Linked DNA regions of Homo sapiens. The protein of the gene in region 2 interacts with the protein of the main gene of each other region in a pairwise test. Each region holds a gene or a part of one and is shown on either strand. Other genes may lie near its edges.

What was found. The genes of interacting proteins can lie anywhere in the genome.
Region 1: the proteins of TMEM98 (region 2) and HTR6 interact in a two-hybrid assay, tested with the Homo sapiens proteins (one large-scale study listed by BioGRID and IntAct).

The regions. Positions count from the first base shown.
Region 1 is NC_000001.11:19,671,375-19,674,874, forward strand, and holds part of HTR6 (5-hydroxytryptamine receptor 6), read left to right. Parts: intron 1-3,500. UniProt on the Homo sapiens protein: G-protein coupled receptor for 5-hydroxytryptamine (serotonin), a biogenic hormone that functions as a neurotransmitter, a hormone and a mitogen. Also has a high affinity for tricyclic psychotropic drugs.
Region 2 is NC_000017.11:32,934,653-32,938,152, reverse strand, and holds part of TMEM98 (transmembrane protein 98), read right to left. Parts: intron 1,822-3,500; coding exon 1,706-1,821; intron 1-1,705. UniProt on the Homo sapiens protein: Functions as a negative regulator of MYRF in oligodendrocyte differentiation and myelination. Interacts with the C-terminal of MYRF inhibiting MYRF self-cleavage and N-fragment nuclear translocation.

The DNA.
Region 1 (3,500 bases), on a different chromosome or scaffold from region 2:
TGACGTGTGCAAATTCTGCCTCTGTTCCTGCTTTCAAATCCACTCGGCTCCTTAAGTAAGCCTCCTGCAGGCCGTTTTCCTGATTGCCTGGTGAACGGCCTGCACTTTGGGAAAATGCATCTGAGAAATTGCATTGGCCCTCCTGGGTCACCGCCTCTTTCTTCCCACCAGAGCTGGCCTGGAGGTGGAGGCCCCCTCAATGTTTGGACCTAAAGGAAGTGATGAGAATGAATCAGATGTGGGTGTCTTGGACCCCTTCCCTTTTCCTGTGCCCAGCCCCACTTAGCCTTGGCTTCCTGCCCCATTCCACTCTCTAGCTTCCCTGCAGAGGGAAAGGAGCTGGGCATAGGTCTCGAGGCCCCAGTTCCTCTGGGGTCAGAACATGGGAGCTGGTCAGCCTTGAGCATTTCATCCCCTCTCCATATGTCTATTTATGGAAATGGGCTTTTAAAAGGCCACTGGTTGGCTTAGTGATTTCCACTAGGTCTTCCCACCACCTCAGGGCTGGGAGGAAGGGGTCCTGCTTAGCACTGTGGCTGGGAGTGTGGGCTGGGGATGGAGGAAGAGCCGTGGGGCAGAGTGAGGAGCTACCAGGGCAGGGGAGTGTGTGTGTTGGGAGCAGGGTGGAAGGTGGGGGCCTGGATGTGGGTGGCACTGAGCCATCCTTGGGAGATTGTGGAGGGTCCAGGGTGTTAGGGGCAGTTTCAGAGATGCAGCATGGGCCACTGGCTTGAGGGAGAGCCCAGCAGGAGAGGCCCAGCCTCCTCCTCTTCCTGGCAGGATTTCTGGGTCTCTGTGGTCCATAACCTCATCCCATCTCTACACCTCACCTTCCTCCCCACTCCCATCCATCCTTCTCTCCTTCAGTTCCCATGTCTTCCTTCTGTGTGCCCCGTCTTCCCCTCCCCCTTCTCCTGTCCCATCAATTTCTCCCGCTTTTCCTCCTCCCCCTCCTTTTTTCACCCTCTCTCACCCAACTAAGCGTCATTCTGTCTTAGTGATCCATCTTCCCTTCCATCTCTGTCTTTCCTCCTCCTCAGAGGAGGAGGCTGTGATCACAGAAATATCTGTGAGGGGGAGGAGGGGGCCGAGCCAGGGAGAGGCTGGCAGAGTGACACTGCCGAGCATGGCAGGCTTGGCTGCTGCTCAGAGCCAGGCAGCCTGGTGCAGCCAGGGCTGGAGCAGGAGCTTGGGGGTCTGGCTGGTTAGGGTTCAAGCCCTGCCTCTTTTGCCTCATAGCTGGACGATCTTGGGCAAGGCATTTTACCTCCTTATGCTCCAGGGGTCATGACATCTATCACACAAGTCTGTTTGAAGAGTCAATTAGATAATATACATAAAATACCAGGCACATAGTAAGTGCTCAACAAATTTCAGCTAGGCAGTGACTCACAACTGTAATCCCAACACTTTGGGAGGCCAAGGCAGGAGGATTCTTTGAAGCTAGGAGTTCGAGACCAGCCTGGGCAACATAGCGAGCTCCTGTCTCTAAAAATATATATAAAAAATTAGCCAGGCCTGGTGGCACATACCTTTAGTTACAGCTATTCGAAGAGGCTGAGGTGAGAGGATTGCTTGAGCCCAGGCAACAGAGCAAGACCCCATCTTTAAAACAACAACAATAGTTGTTCGTGCCTCTCTTTTCCTGTTGTTGGTAAAATATGTTTCTGGGGAGCTCACCACCTTGACCCTTTCTAGGGAAAAACATCACTGCTGTCACCAGCACCATCACCATCATTATCAAACAGCTGAGCCAGAGACTAATAATAATGACAACAATAGCTAACACTTCTATGGGACTTCCTATGTGCTGGCACTGTTCTAACTTTCAGTGTATTATTTTATTTTATCCTTATTATAATCCTATGAGGTAGATGCTATTTTAGTGCCATTTTACAGAACAGAAAGTGGAAGCATAGATGAAGTAACTTGCTTAAGGTCACTCCACTAGTTTGTAACAGAGCCAGGATTTGAAACCAGGCAGTCTGGCTCCAGAGTCTGTCTTGTAACTCTCACACTATGATCAGATGATGGTAACAAAATTTAATTGTGGGCTGGGCGTGGTGGCTCACGCCTGTAATCCCAGCACTTTGGGAGGCCGAGGTGGGTGGATCACCTGAGATCGGGAGTTTGAGACTAACATGGAGAAACCCCATCTCTACTAAGGTACAAAATTAGATGGGCATGGTGGTGCACACCTGTAGTCCCAGCTACTTGGGAGGCTGAGGCAGGAGAATCGCTTGAACCCGGGAGGCAGAGGTTGTGGTGAGCCGAGATCGCGCCATTGCACTCCAGCCTGGGCAACAAGAGCGAGACTTCGTCTCAAAAAATAAATAAATAAATAAATAAAATTAATTGCACAAAGGAATACATAAATACACTTTAAAAATTCAACAATAGGGATGAAGGAAAAGACCTCCAAATTCCAGCTAATCACCTTTCACTCCCAGGGACATGCATCAATTTAGGATATGTCCTTCTAGGTCTTTTTTTTTTTTTTTTTTTCTGTTAGGACAGAGTGTCACTCTGTCACCCAGGCTGGAGTGCAGTGGTACAACCACGGCTCACTGCAGCCTTGACCTCTTCTGACTCAGGTGATCCTCCCACGTCAACCTCCGGAGTAGCTGGGGCTACAGACGCACATCACCATGCCTGGCTAATTTTTGTATTTTTTGTAGAGATGGGGTTTCACCATGCTGCCCAGGCTGGTCTTGAACTCCTGGACTCAAGCAATCCACCTGCCTCGGCCTCCCAAAGTGCTGGGATTACAGGTGTGAGCCACTGCACCTAGCCCTTCCGGGTCATTTTCTATGTGCTTATGTATTTATACAGGTACTTAAAGAAACTTGGTGCTTTGTGTTGGATATTGTTTTTTAAACAAATAGGATCATGCTGTATCTATTACTTTGCAACCTGCTATTATAATTTAATAATCATGGAGATCTTTTCATTTGATTGATTCATTCTTTTAAAACATCTGTGTAGTATTCTGTAGTGGGAATTCACCGTGGTTTATTTAAGCCACTCTTCTCTTTTTTTTTTTTTTTTTTGAGACAAACTCTCACTCTGTCACCCAGGCTGGAGTGTGGTGGTGTGATCTCGGCTCACTGCAGCCTCCACCTCCTGGGTTCAAGTGATTCTCCTGCCTCAGCCTCCTGAGTAGTGGGACTACAGGCATGCACCACCACACCTGGCTAATTTTTTTATTTTTAGCAGAGACAGGGTTTTGCCATGTTGGCCAGGCTGGTCTCGAACTACTGACCTCAAGTGATCTGCCCACCTTGGCCTCCCAAAGGGCTGAGATTATAGGCGTGAGCCACTGTGCCCAGCCTAAACCACTCTTCTTTTGATGGACATTAAGGCTGTTTCCAATTTTTTCCTATCACAAGTAGTGCTGTGGGACACATTCTTGGATATGTGAAGCGTGCAGACATGAATGTAGGTGTTGGCTGGAAGCTGTATGTGTGATTGTTGGCTGGAAGGGCCCTGGATTGTCCTTC
Region 2 (3,500 bases):
GTCCAAGGTACTCTTTAGGATGGGCCTGTGAGCACCAGAACAGGTCCACTCTCTGGACAATGCCACACCCTCATCTTAGGACCCGTGCTGATCCTACTCACCCAGGCTCACACAGAAACCTCAACCTCCTGAAAGTGCTGCCTTGTAACCTGTATCACAGGAATCTGCCTGGCCTCTAAGTGGCTCTTAGAAGGCACAAAAAGCATGACAAAGGGTCTAGTGAATACCATAGTGCAGAATCTTTAAAACTAATGGGGAAGGAGGCCGGGTGTGGTGGCTCACACCTATAATCCCAGCACTGTGGGAGGCTGAGGCAGGAGGATCACCTGAGGTCAGGAGTTTGAGATCAGCCTGGCCAACATGGTGAAACCCCATCTCTACTAAAAATACAAAAATTAGCCAGACATGGTAGCAGGCACCTGTAATCACAGCTACTCAGGGGGCTGAGGCAGGAGAATCGCTTGAACCCGGTAGGTGGGGGTTGTAGTGAGCCAAGATCGCACCACCGCACTCCAGCCTGGGTGACAGAGCAAGATTCCATCTCAAAAATAAATAAATAAATAAAATAATGGGGAAGGAATGCCCAGTGCCCACCCAGAGCCTGGGATGTGGGTTCTTATAAAGCCAGGGGCTGACCATGTGGCTACAGCCCACTGGAGGCAATTCCAGAGAAGGCAGGGAACTGTTCTCAGCTGAGTCCCTCCCTGGATTATCTCCCTCCCACTCTCTCAACTCACTGAACTGCCTGGACTGAGTTCAAGCTGACCAGGTCGTGTATTCCCTCAGAGGAACTCACGTGGCAACTCAGGAAACTGGTCGTTTTTATTTGGTTAATCTTGAGGCAGAGAAAGGGCTGGTTCCTCGTGATTTACCTGGGGCCATGGCAACAAGGAACGTGTGGGCCCCTGGAACTCACAGCAGTGCCATTGTTTCAGCAGGCATACAGAGGTGCCCTCCCGGGTGGGCGGAGGGGCCAGGTGGCTGACGTGGAAAACATCCTGGCCCCGACCCTCTGCTCAGGCACGTCGGCATACCAGCCACCAGGTGGCAGCACAAACTTAGTACAGCCCTTGGCTCTAAGAAAAGGGCTTTATTTTTCCTCACGATATCAAGCCCAAATGAGGGGGTGTAGCTGTTGACTGCAATCCTGCTGGTTGCCTCCCACACGGGATTTCGCAGTTAGCCTGGAATCTGGGAGGTTGAATGCCATATGGCTTCAGCTCCCACCCAGTGCTGGAGGCTGCTGGCCTGGGCCAGGGATGGAGCAGTGGGCACAGCCAGAGTGGGTCCCCCAAGCTAGTCTCCAACACAGATTCAGGCAGAGACAGGGGTGTGGGCATCTGTGTGACATGTTGGCCTGGGAGGAAGGCGTGTCAAGGGGAGCTGGTATGTGGCTGGGTAAGAGGGGCGGCCACGGGCTCTGCAGGGCAGGGTCTAGGACAGGGTCAGGACTAGGCACCTGCTGGCGCTTCCCCAAAGCCCTCTCAGATGGGTCATGCTGCAGGTGGGGATGGTGGAAGCCCACCTTAGCTGAGAAGTCTCGGTATCTAAACCCTCCTGGTCACTCTGTAAATGTGTGGGAAACAAATAGCTGAAGTTGCCTGTGCACCATTTTATAGAAGAGCCCAGCTCTGCGGCTACCCCAGCTTCCAGCCCCTCTCTTCCCTCAGGGAGTGTGGGGACCTCGAAGCCGCCAATTGCTCACCTGGGGCTGATCCGCTTGGCCACCACAATGATGTCGCTGACACTGGCTGAAGTCTTCATCTTGGCCCCAGAGCCCATTGTCATGGCAACAAGCTTCTCTGTCAGAGTGTGACAAATCTAATGCGGCAGGGAGGAGAGAGATGAGGGCTGACCTGGCTCCACTCAGGGCCTCGCCACCCCCACGAGACAAATCAGCCCTGCCGTGAGTTCCATCGCAGCTGGCCCCCAACCTAATGGCCAGATGTGAAAAGTACAGAGATGAGAGGAAACGGGTGGGAAGTGGCAAAAGCCAAGGGCATGGCTGGGAGAGGACCTGGGGTGGGAGCCGCAGATCAAGGGCAGGGTGTGGGCTCTGGGAAGCCTAAGCTGAAATAATCTGTCTTAAGAAAAATCATGTGCTCCAATTTCACCTTCTCACTTAGGGGAAAAACCTACTTTCTTTTTCTATTCCTTCATCTCATGGTTTAGTCTTCCACAAGAATAAATATCTCCAACAAGGCACCCTCAGGAATGGGGCTGAACAAAGGGCAATTGTTCCCTTTAAGCACATGCTCCAATAACAGCACTTATTTCAACAATTGTCTCAGGTAATATATTAGCATGTTTATCAAGCTGATGATGAAAGGACCTTAGGAAAAGCAGGGAAAAGGCAAGACTGACTACAGCCTTCTTCGTGGTCCCACCCACAGAGCTGGCCACCCCAGAGCTTGCTTCCCCTTTCCAGGCCACCCCATGCTAGAACCAACCAACATGGGTGCGCCTCTATCCATGGCAAGGAAGCACCCCTACCTGACCTATACTTGGAGCTGGACAGTAGAGGGCAGAAAGAAGCCCAAAGGTCCACCTGGGAGTTAGCCCAGACCCCTCTCCCAGCTCCCACCACAGAGACTCAAGGGCAGGTGACCTAGCAAAAGAGTCTTAAGATCCCAAGAGGAGACTTAGAAGCCCTCTCCTTTGATCAGAGGTTCGCCGGGTAGACACAGATTCCAATTCAATATGACTCCCTCCAGCTGATTCATCTCACACCACAGGTGCCATTTATCCTCCTAATAGATGAGGACAGGAGACAAAACCCAGGCCCAGGACACATCTTGGCCAGGAGAAGGGAAATGTAGTATAGTATTATCTTCTAGCCATTATGCCTACCTAGCTCTATCAATAACCATATTTATATCTATAGCCATATTTGTATATCCAAAGAGCCTCTCAGAATTAACTAAGCCTGGACTCTGAGATAATAACTTCCTACTAGGCATTTATCCATCCCCTGAGAGAGACAGCCAAAGAAGAGGTGGGGTAAAGAATGTTTTATTAATAGTGTCTTCTACTGAATGACACTAAAGAAAAGACAAAGTTGTCTCTTTTGAAATCTTGAATAATTACTAGTCAAAGAGATAAATGTGTGATTACCCAGGTTACTGATGTAAAAAAAAAAACCCTGATATTTGCAACTGGCCAAATATTTCAGTATAGTTATTATTCTATTAGGTAGGATATTAACAGGCAAGAATTGAAAACAAATGCTAAAACCATAAAATTACCCAAAATGCAAATTGGATGCAATTTTTCAAAGATTCCAGGCTTTCAAAGAAAAAATCCTCTGCCTTCAGATTGAAGTATGCCTGCTTTGGTTTTTTAACACTGATTGTCCCATTTGGCTGACTACGGTCACAGCCAAAGAAGGCTAGTGATGACTTTCTAGTCACAGTAGAAATCCAAATACAGAAAGAAACTCACCATACAGGCCTGAACTCTCTGTTAGTGAAAATGAGTGTGCAGGGGGAAGCAGGGAAACC